Linked DNA regions of Homo sapiens: region 2 is linked to region 1. The links come from fine-mapping of genetic effects on gene expression. A gene starts in region 1. The other region holds a variant in brackets. All regions are shown on one strand. Distances are between the middles of the regions.

What was found. PIP is the estimated chance that this variant, and not a neighbour inherited with it, causes the effect.
Region 2: its variant is fine-mapped to the expression of GGA1 in whole blood (TOPMed, PIP above 0.99). The same link has a PIP of 0.9 or more in blood mononuclear cells.

What each region holds. Positions count from the first base shown.
Region 1 is chr22:37,601,795-37,613,432 of GRCh38, reverse strand. GGA1 (golgi associated, gamma adaptin ear containing, ARF binding protein 1) reads right to left here and starts at 4,599. Exons shown (of 17, transcript NM_013365.5): 1 at 4,530-4,599. The coding sequence starts at 4,572. RefSeq lists enhancers at 3,770-3,879, 3,594-4,215, 4,820-4,989, 5,140-5,219, silencers at 4,210-4,659, 11,577-11,638 and a cis regulatory region at 5,964-6,423.
Region 2 is chr22:37,628,425-37,636,424 of GRCh38, reverse strand. It overlaps GGA1 (golgi associated, gamma adaptin ear containing, ARF binding protein 1), which reads right to left. Exons shown (of 17, transcript NM_013365.5): 12 at 6,899-6,963; 13 at 6,255-6,427; 14 at 5,326-5,522; 15 at 4,260-4,429; 16 at 3,910-4,020; 17 at 2,861-3,824. The coding sequence ends at 3,714. Among named protein-coding and RNA genes, the nearest start is that of SH3BP1, 7.2 kb to the left of the region's middle. RefSeq lists enhancers at 1,998-2,087, 2,868-3,027, 2,248-3,121, 3,388-3,447, 3,628-3,687. The variant T/C (reference allele first, on the strand shown) is at 4,359.

The DNA.
Region 1 (11,638 bases):
CTGGGACTCTGGGTGACTCCGTCTCAAACAAACAAAAAAGAAACACAGAGGAGGGGACTCAGTTCAGTTTGGGGCTGAGGAGGCTGCCTGGAAGAGGCAACACACAAGCAGGGACCAGGAGGAGTCACCCAGGCTGGAGCTGGTACACCTCTGACCCACGCATGGCTGTATGGGCAGGAAAGATGCGGGTAACCACACGAGGCAGAGAATGAGGGGCCTCAGTAAGGAGTGTGAGTCTTACCATCACACCAGGTTCAGAAAGCCTTCATTCCCTTGGGAGTGGCTCCGGTGTCCCCTTCTCTAATCCTCTACTCCTGCCCAGGGTAGCAGTGCTGGGTCAGTTCTCTTTTGTGTCCCCCAGCCTGCTACGGCACTGCATCCCAGCCACTCATGTCCACACCTGTCTCCCCTTGGCAAATGAATGAGCAGTCAGCTGAGGGCAGGCAAAGGGTGAGGTTCTGGGGAAGACTGAATCCAGAAATGGATAGTGGCAAGGAAAGAGGGCCAACAGGTCTACATGAAGTGGTGTAAACACGACCAGACAGCTACCCCTTTAACCCCCAATACTGGTTAAACAACAATCTAGCTTACATGCTTCCCTGAACCTCCATTTCCCCATCTTGTAAAGCTGGAATGAAATATGGATTTTTTTTTTTTTTTGAGACGAGTCTCACGCTGTTGCCCAGGCTGGAGTGCAGTGGCACGATCTCGGCTCACTGCAAGCTCCGCCTCCCAGGTTCATGCCATTCTCCTTCCTCAGCCTCCCGAGTAGCTGGGACTACAGGCACCCGCCACCACGCCCGGCTAATTTTTTTTTGTATTTTTAGTAGAGACAGGGTTTCACCATGTTAGCCAGGATGGTCTCAATCTCCTGACCTTGTGATCCGCCCACCTTGGCCTCCCAAAGTGCTGGGATTACAGGTGTGAGCCACCGTGCCCGGCTGTATTTTTTTTTTTTTTTGAGACGGAGTCTCGCTCTATCGCCCAGGCTGGAGTGCAGTGGTGTGATCTCGGCTGACTGCAAACTCTGCCTCCCAGGTTCACGCCATTCTCCTGCCTCAGCCTCCCGAGTAGCTGGGACTACAGGTGCCCGCCACCACGCCCGGCTAATTTTTTTTTTTTTTGTATTTTTAGTAGAGACGGGGTTTCACTGTGTTAGCCAGGATGGTCTTGATCTCCTAACCTCGTGATCCACCTGCCTCGGCCTCCCAAAGTACTGGAATTACAGGTGTGAGCCACTGCGTCCGGCCTGTATTTTTTTATTTTTATTTTTTTTTGAGAAAGAGTCTTGCTTTGTTGCCCAGGCTGGAGTGCAGTGGCGAGATCTCGGCTCACTGCAATCTCAGCTTCCTGGGTTCAAACGATTCTCCTGCTTCAGCCTCCTGAGAGTAGCTGGGATCACAGGCGTCCACCACCATGCCCAGCTAATTTTTTTGTATTTTTGGTAGAGATGGAATTTCACCATGTTGGTCAGGCTGGTCTCAAACTCCTGACCTCAAATGATCCACCCACCTCGGCCACCCAAAGTGCTGGGATTACAGGCATGAGCCACTGTGCCTGACCAAAATATTGATTTTGGATGACAAAATACTTTTTGCATGGGAAGGCCATGGCGGCAGCCAGAGCTCGATCTTCATTTCTCCACAGCCCACCTCTAAGGACCACCCCTTCCCAGCCAGTTCTGCCCACGCCTGAGCACCGAGCTGAGGGTGTGGAAGGACACAGCCCAGGAGGTAGAACAGAGAAGGATCTGTGGACAGGAGGCTGGGGACTGACCCAGCATGTGGCGCCTGCCCTGGGCCATATGTTATGGCAGGGGGCCCAAAGCCCTGGAATCCCAGTGGCTGGCCGCCATTCATCCAACTCAGATTTAAGTATTCTGGGTGCTGGGGCTCCAGCAGTGAACAGACAAAATCCCTGCCCTCCTCAAGTTCACTGCCCAGCAAGAGAAACAATGAATACTCAGATTAACAAACCCCGTGTACTGCAGACTGTTGCAAAATGTTACAGAGCAAAGCATAGCAAGGAGAAGTGCAGACAGCCTGGGAGGTGGGGGCTGCTCTCTGGGAGGGCTTTCGGAGGGCTCTGGAGCCCTCGGGAGCTGCTCTCTGGGAGGGCTCTCAGAGCTGAGCTGAGATCGGAAGGACGAATGTTCTCTCTGGATCTAGATCTCTGTCCCAGGAGCTCCACAAGACCCTCTAGTCCCTCAGAAAAATGAAGCCCCTGTTGACCTCCTGGGGATACCAGGAATATGACCCTCCCCAACCCAGGGGTAAGGGTAACTGTCTACTCTGCCTCCGAGTCCCCAAACAAAGGCTGGGGAACATCAGTCTAAAGTTAGAGAATCACTGCCCATTCAATGACACCCAGCCAGAAGACCCTAAAACAGGAAGTCCCTTAAAGTGTCAAAGACACGTGAGTTGGAGTGAGGTCAGAGAAGCTGATTCTGGACTGCTCCTGGGTCAGACGCCAGTGAAGAGGAAGCGCTGGCATCATGAGACATCATCTTTCTCCCCCTGCCTCTGGCTGAAAGCCAGGGCCTCCAGATCCAAGGAGATCTGACTGACCTCCTTGGCCCATGGCCCCTGACCCTCAGCCCTCTTAATTCTACCTGAGGGGAGTACCCTCCCTAGCAGGCAGTTGGGGAGAACACCTAGAGAGGGAGGGAGGTGTTTCACAACAGGGTAAGACTCCACCCTGCCACTCTATAGTGCTGACAATAACATCATTTACCTCACTAGGCCGGGCGCGGTGGCTCACGCCTGTAATCCCAACACTTTGAGAGGCCGACGTGGGCGGATGAGTGGCTAACGCCTGTAATCCCAACACTTTGAGAGGCCTATATAGGCGGATCACCTGAGGTCAGGAGTTCGAGATCAGCCTGGCCAACATGGTGAAAGCCCACCTGTACTAAAAATACAAAAATAGCTGGGCGTGGTGGCGCACCTGTAATTCCAGCTACTCGGGAGGCTGAGACAGGAGAATCACTTGAACCCGGGAGGTGGAGGTTGCAGAGAGCTGAGATTGTGCCACTGCACTCCAGCCTGGGTGACAAGAGTGAAAACCCGTCTCAAAAAAAAAAAGAAGAAGCTATCCTTTACCTCCAGCCTCCACAAGGGAAGAGGAAAGATCTTACAATTCTGCTAGGACACAAAGGGGGAAGGAAAGGAGAAAATCCCAGCCCCAGTGTGTCAGGGCCCAGCCAAACCCAGGTATCTCTAACTTCTGCCTGGTTTTAGACTCTCTGGACTCTCAGAAAACCCCCACTGTTTCTAAACCTGAGAATGTTTTGTATGACCCACAGCTCAAGACCTGTGTCTGAGATCAGTTAGCCAGGGGCCCACCCATCCCCCCAGCCCAGTTGCTGCTGAGACCCAGGCGGACACTTCCGGCGTTCACAACGGTCAAGGGCTGCTGAGTGCCCCTTTTCCACCCCCTGCCCCTCTGGTGGCTAGGATGACTCTGAAACATCCCTAGAGGTTTGGTTCTGGGGCCAACCTCATGGTTCAACTCTGCTCAAGCCTGGCTTAAAAGGGGCCGGCCATGACCCCAAACCACGCTAGACAGTTGCCGGTGTGCCCGGGTCCAAGAGGGTTCCCTGAGGCCCTGGCAACGACGGGGTCCCAACAGCAGTTAAAGCCTTGGGAGAGAACCCTCACTAGACCAGGGAGAAGCCAGCCACGGCTTTCAGAGGCAGAGTCCAGGAGCGGGGCTGTGAGAGCAGGGGATCATCAGGGCTGTGGGTTAAGGAGCTCAGGTGGAGGGTTTGCGGGCTAGGAAGCCTAAGCAATAGGAAGCTACGTCTGAGGAGAAACAAGAAAAAAAGGGGTGTAGAAGCCTTTGAAGGAAGTTCAGCAAGAGCTGGGAAAGGCATCTTGGAGACTGAGGGGTTAGGCTGAAGGGAGTGACAGGGAGCTTGGAATTATTAATACTTCTGGAGTCTAAGACTCTCCCAAGCCTGTAGGGTGCGGGGGTTTCTCACTATGTGGCTAGAGACTAGGAGCGGCGGGAGGAATCAAATGGGGCAGTGGGTCCTCCCTTCCAGGACGGGGTAATGAGCAAATGTGACTACTTGCGGGCTCCAGGAACGCCATGCAGGGCCAGAGAGTGGAGGATTCGGGGCCTGAAAATAGTAGGGTCCCTCCCTCCCGGGTGTGAGATGCAACCCCGGGGAACCGCTCGCGTGCTCCTTCCCCGGGCCGCTACTCCGTGAAGCAATGTGAGCCTTGGGGGTTGGAGGCTGCTCTCTCCGTCCCGGGGGTTCCCGGCGCAGCTCACTCGCCGTCCCAGGGGTCATGGCCCAGGGATCCGACAGGTGGGCGGCGCCCGCTCCCACCGCTGGACCGCGCCGGGGCCGGGGTCCTCCATCGCTCCAGGGTCTGAGGGGCCGACTGAGGACACCGCCCCTCCCGGGCCGGGGGCGGGGCGTGAGGAGGGGGCGACCCGTACCCCGCCCCCGCCGGGAAGGGGCCCGCCTCGTGCCCCCGGTTCCGGTTCCGGTCCGGCCCGCGCCCCTCCCGGACACTCACTGATTCGCGCCTCCAGAGTCTCCGGCTCCATCGCGGGCTCCATCCGCCACCGGCCCCCAGCCTCGGCACCGCCCCCCCGCCCCCCGCAGCTCTCGCGGGACCTCCTGGGCACCGCCCTCTGCCGATTAAAGGGGCAACGTCCGAACGGGCGCGCTCGGCACCATAGAGAGGCCAACGAGCTCGCCTAGAGCGTCACCTACTCGCCCAACCCCACCCCCACGCGGCGTCTACGTCGCAGCTGGGACCGGCCGCCTGCTTTTCCGTTCCCGGCGCTCAGGCGGGAGAGGAAGTGGAGATACTGCAGGCTAAGGGCAGCACCATGGAAACCCCAAGGGACGCTCTAACTCGTTCTGCGTCACGGAGATGTCTGTGACCGCCTCCGGAAGAATTCTCTGCGGGCATGTTGCTGAGGGGCTCTGAGGCCACTTCCGGAGCCCTGAGCGGGTACTTCCGCTTAGAGTCGAACGTGGGAGAGTCCCTTAAAAGGGCGATAAGCTACATCCTCATGTACCTTGGCCGCTGTGAAAATGACGAAAATAAATCAGTTTCTTGAGTGCTTACAGTATTCTGGGCATTGTCCTAAGCACTATTTGTAATTAATCCATTTAGTTCTGACTCCTTACAACAAACCCACCAGATAATTAGTCGGCCTGAGGCCGCACAAGTAGCAGAGCTTGAACCCTGTGCCGTCTCCTCCATTCATCCAGCCAACGTTTAATGAACTCTTTGTATTTGCTTTGCTCTGTGATGGGCACAGAAGGAGATAGACAAGGCCAGATATTTATTACAGTGTGATAGGGGAAGCCCACGGGGTAGTGGGAACAAAGGAGGGGGCTCCTCCCCCAAACTGGGGTGGGGTGGGTGGGGGTGTTGTCAGGGGAGGGGTCGTGTCAGGGGAGGGGTCGTGTCAGGGGAGGTTTCAAGAGAAAGTGATACTGTACTTCGCTCAAAGACAGTCGGATTTCTCCACGTAGAGCTGGTGCGAAAAGATATTCAGGGAGAAAAAGTAGGATGAAGGCCGAGGAGGGCGGATCACGAGGTCAGGAGATCGAAACCATCCTAACACGGTGAAACCCCGTCTCTACTAAAAAAAAAAAAAAAAAAAAATTATCTGGGCGCGCCTTTAGTGCCAGCTACTTAGAAGGCTGAGGCAGAAGAATCGCTTGAACCCGGGAGGTGAAGGTTGCAGTGAGCCGAGATTGCGTCACTGCACTCCAGCCTGGGCGGCATAGCGAGACTCAGTCTCAAAAAAAAAAAAAAAAAAAAAAGTAGGATGAGTCCAGGGAGTTGGAAGTATTTCAATACGGCTCCCAGATATCTGCAAATAGATATCTATTTGCAGGAGATATCTTGGAATTAGGCTGGGGCAAGATCACCCAGGTCCCATGTTTTGCTGCCCTTTTTTTTTTTTTTCCCTGTAAGCAACGTTGGAGGTGTCGTTACAGTTTTACGGATGGTAGCAAAGTCAGGCTTTTGTTTTAGAAGGGTCCAGCAGTGGGAGGAAGATAGCAGTGGGAGCCAGACTGGAATCGGGGAGGACAGTACGAACAGACTTCCTAAGCTCGGCGCCTTTTCTCCTGTATCTCCCTCCATCAAAGACCTCCCTCACCTTGTGGCGTCACGACCTGGCGGCGCCTGGTCCCCGACTCACCTGGGTCCATTGCACTCTGTCGCCCCCTCGCGGCCGGCTGGGAAACCGGCCCGTGGCGACCTCTCCAGCGGTCCTGTGCCTGGGAGGGTTAAAGCTCCACTGAGACTAGGGAATCTGGCGAATCCGGTTCTGCCTTGGCGACTGACCTCGATTCACCTTGCGGAACCGCAGTAACCTCATCCAGGAGATGAGGGGGCTGTGCTGGGTCAGTTTTTCCCCTAAACTCAACCATTCAGCGACTGGGATGCTTTTCTAAATTCTCTCCCAAAGGCCATTGAGATTATACAGGGAAGTGATATGTATGTTTATTGCATTCCTCAACAAAAGCTGTAACGTAGTGTATACTTATAGCTTTTTGTTTATGTCTTTTACTACTGAAATGAATTATATATATTTTTTTATTTTATTTTATTTTTGAGACGGAGTCTCTCTCTGTCGCCCAGGCCGGAGTGCAGTGACGCGATCTCAGCTCACCACAACCTCTGCCTCCCGGGTTCAAGTGATTTTCCTCCCTCACCCTCCCGAGTAGCTGGGATTACCGGCGCCTGCCACCACGCCCGGCTAATTTTTTCATATTTTTAGTAGAGACGGGGTTTCACCATGTTGGCCAGGCTGGTCTCGAACTCTGGACCTCAAGTAATCCACCCGCCTGAGCCTCCCAAAGTGCTGGGATTACAGGTATGAACCACTGCGCCCAGCCTATTATATTTATTTTTGAGACAGAGTTTTACTCTGTCGCCCAGGCTAGAGTGCAGTGGCACGATCTCAGCTCACTGCAACCTCTGCTTCCTGGGTTCAAGCGATTCCCCTGCCTCAGCCTCCTGAGTTGCTGGGATTACAGGCATGCGCCATCATGCCTGGCTAATTTTTGTATTTTTAGTAGAGACAGGGTTTCGCCATGTTGGCCAGGCGGGTCTCGAACCCCTGACCTCAGGTGATCCACCTGCCTTGACCACCCAAAGTGTTTGGATTACAGGCGTGAGCCACCACGCCCAGCCTGAGATGAATTATTACTGAAATAAAACTCACATCGCATTTACTGCATTCATTTAGGGACATGTCTGTGCTGTCAGGAGTCACTTTTAAAGACAAAATAGATTTGATTTAGGTGCAAATTCTGACTTCACTGCTTTCTGGATGATCTTGAACAAGTGTGTCTGCAAAATTAATCCCCTACCACATGTTCCCTACCACCTTTTCTGCTGAACTTTTCTCCTTAGCACTTATCTCCACTACATATTTCATTTCTTTGTTGTGTTTTGTGTCTCTCTCCCCCACCAGAATGTAAGCTCCACCACGGCAATGGATTTTATTTAGTTACTTCACTAATAATATATCCCCAAGCCCTAAAACAGTAACTGTTACACAATAAGTATTCAATAAATATGCATCAAATAAATGAATGAATATGCCCAACATTGCACAGTGAGTATGGGGGTTTGGAGAGGCGAGCCAGGCTGTGCTTGTAACAAAGGCTCTAGGCTGTCCCTCTGAGTTCTGGGGAGCAGGGCGTGATAAGGTAGACTCAGGAGCTGTGTCTATGCGTGAAGGGCCTGGCCCAAACTGGGGATCAGGGTAGGAGGTACGGTAGGAGGAACCTAAAGATGGTGAAAGGAAGGAGGACCAACACGGGAAACTTGGAGGAAATGCCTGTGGCAGCCGTTCCCACCCATTCCCCACCATGAGCAAATGTGTTGCTTTGAGAGACTTGAGGAACCCCTGAGAAGGGCAGGTAAAGCTCAGCTATAATCACCTAAGCCATGCCGACCTCTAAGGATTTAACACCTCAGCTCCTTCCTAAGAAAACCCCTGGAACACTGGAAACGTTGGTGAGGGAGGGCTGGGGCGAGGGAATAGGAGCTGGGGAGATGGGCATCCTTGCAAACTTGGAGGAGAGATATGGGGGAGGACATGCAATTCTTTCTTGGAGGAGGATTGTAGAAGGTTCAGGAAACAAACTGAGGCGTGGCCCCAGCCTCAGCCCCTGTGACTCCAGTCAGATCCTGCATGTCCCTTCCGGGCATGGGAACCTCAGGGGAGGGGGGCACAGAGGACCATGGTTGTCATTGTCGCCTTTAATATTCCCACAGACCTCAGAGTTGAATTCTATTCTTCCTGTTTTACAGATGAGAAATCTGAGACTCTGAGCAAGGATGTGGTTGGCCAAGGCCCCCACGTGTCTCCATCACAAGAGCCCACATCAGAGCAAGTCCCTGCCTTCAAAGGATGGAAAGCACAGAAGCAGGCTGGGCGGGGTGGCTCAAGCCTACAATCCCAGCATTTTGGGAGGCCAAGACGGGTAGATCACTTGAGGTCAGGAGTTTGAGACCAGCCTGCTCAACATGGTGAAACCCCATCTCTACTAAAAATACAAAAATTAGCCAGGTGTGGTGGTATGCACCTGTAATCCCAGATACTTGCGAAGCTGAGGCACAAGAATTCCTTGAACCTGGGAGGTTGCAGTGAGCTGAGATCGCGCCACTGCACTCCAGCCTGGGCGACAGAGTGAGACTCCATCTCAAAAAAAAAAAAAAAAAAAAAGGCTAGTGGCTCAAGCCTGTAATCCCAGCACTTTGCCAGGCAGAGGCGGACGGATCACGAGGTCAGGAGATTGAGACCGTCCTGGCAAACATGGTGAAACCCCGTCTCTACTAAAAATACAAAAAATTAGCTGGGCGTGGTGGCGCGTGCCTGTAGTCCCAGCTACTCAAGAGGCTGAGGCAGGAGAATTGCTTGAACCCAAGAGGCAGAGGTTGCAGTGAGCCAAAATTGCGCCACTGCACTCCAGCCCGGGCAACAGAATAAGACTCAGTCTCAAAAAAAAAAAAAAAAGAATAAAAAAAGAAAACACGGAAGCAAACAAAGCACATGGAGGTAATTACGAAGGGACCCAAGTGGGCTAGTGTGAGAGAGTAGAGGCCATATGGGAAGTGGCCTGGACAGGCCTGTTGGAGTTGATATTTAAGCTGAGAAGGAGCCAGCGGTAGAAAGGGTGACTACGCAGACAGCAAGTGCAAAGGTCCTGAGGTCACACAGCTAAGAAGACAGAAAGCAGAATTTGAACTCAAGCTTGATTCTCTGCACCCAAAGTTCATGCATGATCCCAGGAGCCATGATTCCAGATGCTGCTGCTGACTGGGAGAGAGCAGACATCAGAAAGATGACAGAGCCTACGGAATGGATGTATTCAACTCCTCATGTATGTGTGCAGGGGACAGGGAGAAGGGCTCTATTTTCTGAATCCGATCTGGGCCAAGTGGTGTAACCAACATCATTGCCAAAATGTGTGAATTTACACAATAAAAGGCTCACAAAGTATTAAAATTTAGCTCTATTTCCCGGTGAATTTAATAAATTATCTTAATTGAAAAGAATCATGTTGGCTGGGTGCAGTGGCTCACACCTGTAATCCCAGCACTTTGGGAGGCCGAGGTGGGTGGATCACGAGGTCAGGAGTTCAAGACCAGCCTGACCGACATGGTGAAACCTCGTTTCTACTAATTAGCTGGGCGTGGTGGTGTAAGCCTGTAATCCCAGCTACTCAGGAGGCTGAGGCAGGAGAATCGCTTGAACCCGGGAGGCGGAGGTTGCAGTGAGCCAAGATCACACCACTGCACTCCAGCCTGGGTGACAGAGCGAGACTCCGTCTCCAAAAAAAAAAAAAAAAAATTATAATAAATATTTATTTATTATAAATAAAATTAAAAAAGAAAATGATGTTTAAGATGAAAAGAAATATAATTCAGTACAAATATATAAATGCCTGTGTTACAGAAGATTATCTCATTGGTTGTTTGCAGTTAAGCCTTTCCCCCAAAATCTAGATTGCCTGAAACAATGGGACAGCAAAAATAAGACCTGCTACAAGGTCAGCAAGACCCCGTCTCTACAAAAAATTTAAAAAATTAGCCAGGCATGGCCAGGCACAGTGGCTTACTCCTGTAATCCCAGCACTTTGGGAGGCCGAGGTGGGCAGATCACCTGAGGTCAGAAATTCGAGACCAGCCTGGCCAATATGGTGAAACCCCATCTCTACTAAAAATACAAAAAATTAGCCGGGCTTGGTAATGCATGCCTGTAATCCCAGCTATCTGGGAGGCTGAGGCAGGAGAATTGCTTGAAACCTGGGAGGCGGAGGTTGCAGTGAGCTGAGATTGTGCCACTGCACTCCAGCCTGGACAACACAGTGAGACTCTGTCTCAAAAAAAAAAAATTAGCGAGGCATGATGGCGCCTGCCAGTGGCCCCAGCTACTAGGGAGGCTGAGGTGGGAGGATGGATTAAGTCCAGGAGGTTGAGGCTACAGTGAGCCATGATTATGCCACTGCACTTCAACCTGGGCAACAGAGTGAGATCTCAAAAAAAAAAAAAAAAAATCTGCTGCAAGGGAAATCTGGGCCATTTCAGGGTGGGAGTGAGGGGACTGTGGCCACTAATGAAATGGATTTGTTCATTGGGCTTTTCCATGTCCTGGGAAGATTGGGGGGCAGGTGGGAATCTCCCATGTGACAGTTCATTTCACTACCTTTGATCTGATTCCAAATCAGGATAATTTGCTACCATTTATTGACTCATCCATTATGTGCCATGGCTTTTTCATTTATATCATACCAGTACTTTAAGATAGTTATTAGTCTTCTCAAATTACAGAGGAGGAAAGTAGAGGGCCAGTGAGGTTACAGAAACTCTTGCCTGAAGCCATAAATGGGGAGCTGGGGCCAAGTTCTGCTTGATTTCCAAGGTGCTGCAGGCTCTACCCTGCTGGTTTTCTCTGGGTGACCACCATGTAAAAGCCCCTTGGAGAGGCTGGGCACAGGCACAGGGGGCTCACGACTGTAATCCAAACACTTTGGGAGGCCAAGGCAGGAGGATCACTTGAGCTCAGGAGTTTGAGACCAGTCTAGGCAACCAGAAAAAAAAAAAAAAAGAATTAGCTCAGCGCTGAGTGTGGTGGTATGCAACTATAGTCCCAGCTACTCGATACGGCAGGAGGATCGCTTGAGCCCAGGAGGTCAAGGCTGCAGTTAGCCGGCCCAGGAATGTCTGCCCAAAGTTAGAGAACCTTAACCTCTGCTCAGTCCACCTCATGCTCCCCAAGCCAACTGTTCCTGCCTGCTCTAGCTCCCCAAGGACCTTAGATCTGAGAAGAGCTTATGTAGATTCACCTCAAGGTCTGACTACATGGTGTGGACCATCTCTGCTGCAGAGTGGGACTCTAGTCCCCAGCCTCCTCTGCCCCAGCTCTTCATAATATCAGCCTCTCCCTACTCTAGGTGCTCAGGTGTACCGGATGGGGTCATGTTTGCCAGTGACTGAATTGTGTGCCAACCAGTTAGGGGACAGAAGGGGCTGGGGAATGAAGAGTCTGAGCAACTCCCTTTTCCCCACCCCCGGACACCTTTTCATTGGGTAGGAAGATGTAAATTACAGGGGCGTGGACACTGAGGCGGATACTATGC
Region 2 (8,000 bases), 25 kb before region 1:
GTAGACACCTCAAGACTGCTGGCCCAGACTCAGCCCATAATGTGTGACTTCTCTGAGCCTCACTTCCCATTTCACAGGGCATTTCAGAGGCTTAAGATGGGAGGCTATAGGCATCAGGTCCGGGGGCTCCTCTTGCCTGCCTTGCTGGGCTGGTGCCCTGGTTGCAAGGCCCAGAGAGACTGGGGGAGGGGGTATGTCGAGAGACCAGGCAGACCAGGCACAGTAGCTCACCACAACACTTTGGGAGGCTGAGGCAGGTGGATCGCTTGAGCTCAGGAGTTCCAGACCAGCCTGGGCAACCTGGCGAAACTCTATACAAAAAATAAAAATATTAGCCGGGCATGGTGGCACGCGCCTGTGGTCCCAGCTGCTCAGGAGGCTAAGAGGGTAGGATTGCCTGCGCCGAGGAGGTCAGGGCTGCAGGGAGCTGTGTTTACAACACTGCCCTCCAGCCTGGGTGAGAGACCTTACCTCAAACAAACAAACAAAAAAACCAAAAAACTGACTGGGGGCCGGGTGTGGTGGCTCACGCCTGTAATCTCAGCACTTTGGGAGGCCAAGGCAGGTGGATCACCTTAGGTGGGAGTTAGCCTGACCAACATGGAGAAACCCCGTCTCTACTAAAAATACAAACTTAGCAGGATGTGGTGGCGCAGGCCTGTAATCCCAGCTACTCGGGAGGCCGAGGCAGGAGAATCGCTTGAACTCGGGAGGCAGAGGTTGCGGTGAGCCGAGATCGTGCCATTGCACTCCAGCCTGGGCAACAAGAGCGAAACTCCGTAAAAACAACAACAACAAAAAACCGACTAGGCAGGAGCAGGCTCCCAGGCCCTTGCCACTTCTCCTGGCTGCCATAAACAGACGAACAGTGTGATGCGGTTGCTGAAAACCAAAATTAACTGGTGCCTCGGCCAAATCAACAGAAATGGAAGTGGGGCTTCGAGATCTGGGAAGTCCCACTGGTCTTGGCATGGCACTGGGGGTCACCCTTCAAGAGACAGAGCACACGCCTCCCCAGTGCACTGCATCCCAGCCCCTGAGACTGCAGAGCGCAGTGGCCCGGACCTCTGTGCAGCAACACGGTATTTGGGGAAGGACTCCTCCAGGGAGTGGAGGCCCAGGGTCCTTTCCTCTGGTTAGAACCCACCCCAGACTCTCAGACAGATGCAGGGCTTCTGTGGTACCTTATGTCTTTGCTCTCAGGGTGCCACACTGGCTCCCAAGTCCTTGCCAGCTTGTGAACTCTTAGGACAGGGGCTGGCCCAGGGGCTGCTCAGGAAACACTGGCATGACTGACAGGATGGGTGGGTTAAGGACAAGGCAAGGGACAAGGTCCAAAGGCTGAAGGGACCCCACCTTCCCGTCCCCGGAATATCCTGGGTCACTCCAAAGCTGACAGCCTGGCTCCTTTGTCCAAGGACTCCTCAGAGGGACCTTATAGCTCATTGAGTCCCTCTCCCCTTTTCCAGAAAGGAAAGCATCTTCCTCAAAATCACACAGCAAGCCAGTGACCCAGCCAGAACCAGCCCCCAGACTCCCAGCTCACAGTCCCACCTGTTCCCCATGCCAACCTGTACTCCTCCCTGCCATGGCCAGTAATGAAGACTGTGCTGGAGGTGGGACTCTGGCACCCCAAGTGGATGCTGCAGGGGTTATGGTTTCATTTCAGGTAGAAGAAACTTCCAACCGGAGTTATCTTCAGGAGACATCACAAGTGTGGAGGCGAGTCCTGCAGGGTAGGGAAGGGGAACAGGAACGAGGCCACGTGGCTGGGACAGGGTGTCTGGAAGCCTCCAGGGGCCAGCCTCTGTCTGGAGGGCTGTGCCAGGGTGGGAGTCCCACTGTAGGGATCTGATAGGAGGCTCCCGCAGGGTGCAGCTAATGCCTCTTGTCCCCTCAGCAGTAAGGCGGACATGGAGGAGCTCTCAGCCTGCGCTTTCAGTGTGGGCCCAGCAGAGAGGGGCCCCTTGCTTGCTGATGAGTGTTAAAGAGCACACACGCTGGGATGCGGGTGTGCTGGGCAATTCTCCAGCATGTCACAACTATATCTAAGGAGAAGGGTTCAGCGGCCAAGTTCAGATTGGGAAACACTAGATTAGACAAAGTGAAAATGGCTTCTTAAATGAGGGACTTCCCAGGGTCTGTATGGGCTCATCTACTCAGGAGAAACCGTGCGCAGCCTCCCTGGACTCATCTGAGCAGGGAACACTTTCCTGCAGAGCCACACGCAGGGCTGGCCTCCCACACAACAGGGCCCATCTGCCTGGACCAGCGCCCCCTCGCTCCCAGCTGTGTGGCCTCGAAGCCACGCCCAAGCTTGGACCCCAGCCTCCTGGTTGGAGAAAACTGATAGCACTGTGTGGGGGAGAGCTGCCGCTGCGAGTGGCAGGGGCCCAGCTCAGGGTCCCTGGGTCTGCTCCCAAACAAACTGCGATTGGTGCTGGGCAAGGGAGTGATGTCTGGGGGGAGGGAGAAGCTGGGCTTGGACTTCCCTCTGGGGTGCTGCAGCATCGAGGTTGTGTGGAGGGCTGAGCACAGCAGGAGGAAGTCGTGAGCAGCCAGGGGCCTCCCCCTCGGTGTCTGTAGCAGCTGGGGCTCCTGCCAGGCCCTGGCGGTCGCCCACTTCCAGCTGGGACGGTCCTGGTCCGCCACAGCCCAGCGCCCTCTCTGGTGACTCAGCACTGGCCACAGGCCCCTTTGCAGGGCCTTTTCCGGTGCAGGGCCCGGGGGGTGGTGGGGAGGGGGCCCACGGCCTGACCTCCAAAGACGGAAGTGGAGAGGTCTACAGGGCAGCCCTAGGGAACATGGACTCAACCCCTCCCATCTCCCTCAACCTCCAAAGGGCCACGAGAGCAGCTGGTCCAGGAAAAACGACGTTTTATTTTCATAAATACTCCTGCTCTCACTCACACACTGACCCCACTTCTGACCACGGACAGATGGATGGACAGACGTAAGACACCCATAGGAGGCCCCAGCAGAGGCCAATGAATGAAGGAGACACACCGAGAACTCTAGGTGCCCCACAGCCCCTCGCTGGGGCCATGGGCCTCTGGCATTACCCTTGAGCCCCCACAGTCCCTCAGGGGGCCCAATGGCAAAGGGAAACCCCCAGGAGTACGGGCCAGGTGAGGTTCCCCCAGCCTGGCCCCCTGAGGCTGTGACCACAGGGCCAATCCGGAAGAAAAGCAGAGTCAAACCACACACCAGAGTGCAAATAGCTGGGGGTGTAGGCGTCACCCCCCAGTCACTGGGTTCCTATGGAGGAGGCCTAAGCTGGTCCCCAGCTCCAGCATGGCCCCCGAGTTATGGCTGGGCCTTCCCATAAGGCATAAGAGACAGGTGGGGAAGACCCCACCCCAGCTGGGGTTGGGGCTGGGCCTGAGGTCCTGGCCCTTCCCCAACAGCTGTGCTTCCTCCCCATGACCCAAGTTCTTCCAAGGCTACACAGCCCCTCCCTCTCCAGGTCCCGGTGATGGAGACCCCAGCGGCACAAACCCAGGCCCAGCCTCCTACTGGGTTTGGCTCAGCAGGGGCGGGGCCGGAGCAGGAGGGGGAAGAGTCACTTGAGGCCTACAGGGGTGTGGGGAGAAGCACCAGGCCTGGGGGTGAATGGCCATGGGCAACAAAGGGTGTCCTTGGCCACCAATGCCTCCCTCCAGGCTGGACAGTGACCGGTCCCTCTGCCCCTTCCTCTCCCCAGCCCCTCTGTTCTAGAGGCTACCCCAGGTTTCAGGTGGGGGGAACTGGTCCACATCCCCCATCTCGTTGTAGGTCTGGTCACCCATGGTGAAGGTGAGCTTGTAGCGGAGGCGAACCTTCTCCTGGGGAAGAGATGGCAAAGGCAGAGGGGTCAGAGGAGGAGAAGTGGCCGTCCCCACCCTGCAGCACTGCCTGGGGGCCCCTTACCTTCTGGGGGTTGGCAAGCAGCAGGACCTGGGTGATTGCTGAGGGGTGGACGATGGGGTTAAAAGCTGGCAGCTCCGTGCCCGAGGGTGGCTGCAGCTTCACCTTCATAACCTGTGGGCAGATGGCAGGATGGGCACAGCTAGCCCTGGCTGCTTGTCCTGCTCTGAGGAACCAGGCCCAGCCTGCCAGCTCCCCTCCGGGGATCCTGGGGCTCAGTCCTTCTGGTCCCTTCTACACCAACCACCCAGCAAGGGAGGGAGACCTGCCCCCTGACAGGTGGCTCCCCACCCAGCTCCATGTCACCCTGCCTTGAGAGGAGGGAGGCATGCCCTGTCCGACTGGCTTGTCACCTTGGGGACAGCTGACTGGAACACGATGTTGCGGATGGGCTGGGGGGCGGTGCTCAGCATGGAAACCACCACCACCAGCACGTCGGAGCGCCCTGGCAG[T/C]GGGTCCCGGGCAAAATGGAAGAGGATGCGGAAGCCGTGCTGGTCATACACAGTCACGGGCAGGATGTTGCCTGTGGGAGAAGGTGGGAGGGCGATGGGACAGCTGAGCTGCAGCACATCCGCTCAGCCCCCAGCCCCCACCCGGCTGGCCTCAGGAGCTGGCTGCTGTACTGGCAACAAGAGCAAAGTCCTCCTTTGGGGCCTTACCTGGACCCTGGGTGGCAGTGCAGGCAGGGGCACAGAGCGGTGCCCAGAGAGGGCAGGTGAACCCCCAGTCTGATAGTGGAGGCAGGACACCCACCCCAGAGCCGAGTCACAGCCCAGCTTCCCCCGATGCTGTGTGGCTGCTGCCTGGAGTGCTGGGGTGAGGGACTTGGTGAGGGTGAGTCTCACGCTGTGTGACCTTGCGGCAGTCACTCCCCTTCTCTGAGCTCAGGGTTCTCCTACTGGTGAGAGGGGCAGCTCTGCCCACTGCTGGGAGACACTGTGGGGGTAGTGTCTTTGGTCACAGGGAGCTCATAGAGGGCAATGCTGAGGACCACCAGGCCTCATGTGTCTGCTTGGGGCCCGGGGCTGGGCCATGGTCCCCTTACTGCTCCTGGGCTGGAAAAACCCAGCCTTGGATCTGGGTCTTTATCATGGTTCAGTTCTGTAATCTGGGGGAGACCCCAAACCTCTCTGTGTCCTGGGCCCTGCCTTCCTGGGGATGGAAGGGGCCCAGAGCCTACTCCCTAGAGGTCTTCTTGCTTATATAAGCCTGGAGTTTGTACAGCAGTCCTCTGATTGCTCTGGGGCAGATAAGGAAACTGACTCCTGGGAAGGGGAGGGCCTTGTTCAGAGCTCCCCTCTGGTTGGCCAGTGGCAGAGCCAGGGGAGCCCTGCTTTCCCACTAGCTTCCCCAGACAGAGCTCCTGACAGGGCAGCAAGCTGACCCAACCCAGCCTGCACCTGCCCCAGCCCTACTCACTGGGTTTGATGGACTCCAGGGGCACAGTGATGCTGGCCAGTGAGAGCTCGGTTGGTACGGGCTGCTGCGGAGGCCTGGGGGGCTCTGGGGACACGGTGTGGAGAAGGCTGGTGGCGCTGGAGCTGGGGGAGCTGCAGCTGCTGCTCTTATTCTGCAGGTCCCGGAGTGTGAGCCGGGGGGTTGGCTGCTGCTTCTCCCTTAATCGGGGGACAGTGCATTAAGAAGTGATTCTTGGCCAGCGTGGTAGCTCACCCCTGTAATTCCAACACTTTGGGAGGCTGAGGCGGGCAGATCGCTTGAGCTCAGGAGTTTGAGACCAGCCTGGGCAACATGGCGAAACCCGGTCTGTATAAAAAATACAAAAAACTAGCTGGGCGTGGTAGCGCACACCTGTGGTCCCAGCTACTCAGGAGCCTGACGTAGGAGAATCGCTTGAGTTTGGGAGATGGAGGTTGCAGTGAGCCGAGATCATGCCACTGTACTCCAGCCTGGGTGACAGGGTGAGACTCCCTCTCAAAAAAAGAAAAAGTGATTCTTTGGTGATGGAGAGATCAGGGGCACAGGAAAGGCTGGCACGTGTGGCTATCTCTCTGGCCTTGGGTCTTACCTTTAGAAGGAGCAGCTCGTGTTCTCCCTCCACCCTGCACCCCACCTATTCACTCCAGCCCAGTGTCCTCCCCTCTGCCGGCCCTCTGGACCTTTCTCAAGGGAGCTGGGAACACCTGGGGGGAGGCCAGGCCAGTGGGCCCAGGTCTGCCTTGGGCACTGTTGTGTTTCCAGAGGCAGGTGCACTGCTTGGCATCTGCTGCTTACAAAACAAGACAGCAACGAGCCTCTCCCTGCTGGGCCTGGACAAGCCCAGGAGAAGTTGCTGGTTTGTGGGAACAGGGAGTGCTCCCCACCCCATGCCAGCCATGGTGGGCCCTCACCACCGCACTTGCTGGGATTCCGGGGGCAGCGACTGCTGCAGGAGGGTCTTCCCCAGGAGGTCTAGGTCGTCCAGACCGCTGCTTGCTGGCAGGGATGTCTGCGCTGGGGGTCGGCTTTCCATACTGGGGGCCTGGGCCAGAGCAGGGGCTGGGGGCTCAGTGGCATCCGACGACTGTGGGGAAAAGGATGCAGGTGGGGTGGGGCTGTCTAGAGAGGTGTCAGCATCACCTGATCCTGCCCTGAGGCTCAGTGTCCTCCTTGCAAATGACATCTGGGAAAGCAGCCACAGAGGTGGGGACCCCAGACCACCCATGTCCATGATGCAGGGTGGCTGGGTCTGGTTGGGGGTTCTACAATCCAGGGACCTCTGTCACCCTCAAGGGAAAGGAAGAGGGATTGCCCATCTCAATCCCAATCCCAAAGGCTGGGCTGCAGCCCCAAGGCTGAGACTTGGGGAAGATACAGCTGGAGGTAAGGGGAGGCCCTGTACCCTGGGTGGGTGTCTCCAGGCCCCTGGGCCACCCCCTGGCCCTGGGCTCTTGAGTAGAGCCCATCCATCCTTTTAGTTTCTCCAGGCCACTTGTCCCAGCTGCCCTGACCCTGGGACTGGGACAGGCCAGACTAGTTTGTGGTCCCCTCCTACCTGGAAGCTGTTCCATCCGGTACCATCCAGGCTTGGGCCTGAAGGGGGTGTGGGGTCACTGAGGCCTGAGGGGAAAGCAGGAGAGAGGTGAAGGAGCTGGGCTGACCCTGCAGAGGCCAGAGAGCCGAGGGGCCATGTGTGCTGGCATGGGGCTCCCTACCCCTTTCTGAGGCTCAGCACGGAGGGGAGAAACCCACATTTTCAGAGGGAACCAGCAGCAGAGCAGAACCAGTAACCAAGATCCCGGCAACCCCTTGTGCTGACCCCACACACGCTTCCCCTCTTCCTGGCCAGGCCACTCCAAAGCTCTGTGCACACAGACAATAGACATCAGGACTTTCATCTTCACTCGTCATCTGGCAGCAGAGAGCCTGCAGGGCTGGGCTGCAGGGAGAAGAGGTTCCTTTCCTCACGCATCCAGGCAAGGGGAGAGCAGCTCTGTGCCTGCCACTGGCCCACTCGAGGGACGCCTGCTGGGTGACTGTGGGCTAGGCACTGTGCTGGCTGAGCCACAGTGTCCCCAAGAATACGAGGACAGGGCTGGACTGGAGGCGACGCTGAAGGCCCTCTTGGCCCTGGCACATGCCAGTGAGGCTCACTGGTACTATGGAGGGCTGGGGATCCCTGTGGATGGCCCTAGAACTAGCTGCCGATGGGAAGGAGGCAGCAGGTCACCAGCCAGCCTGACCTCTGCCTGCCCTGGAATACTGTCAGCCAAGTTCACCCCAAATCTGACCTAGAGAAGATAAGGGATCTTGTTTCCAACAAATCCTGAAAAAGTGAGGTCCAAACCGAAGTGCTACCTGACAGGCAAAGGCAAGGGTACCAGGAAGCTGTGACAGTGGGTCCCTTCTAGATGCACTTCTTAGAGGCCAGAGATAAAGTGCACTGATGATGCCCTAGATGCTTCAGGCCCTTCAGATGCTGGTCTTGCTTAATCCTCAAACAACCTTCAAAGGTAGGGGTGAGCTTCTCAGCCCTCTTTTAGGGATAAGAAAATGGACTCAAAGTTGGTAAATAACCTGCCCGAGAACACACAGCTAGAAAGTGGCAGAGTCTGGACTCAGACAGAGCATGGCCTGACTGCCAGCATTTGAACACA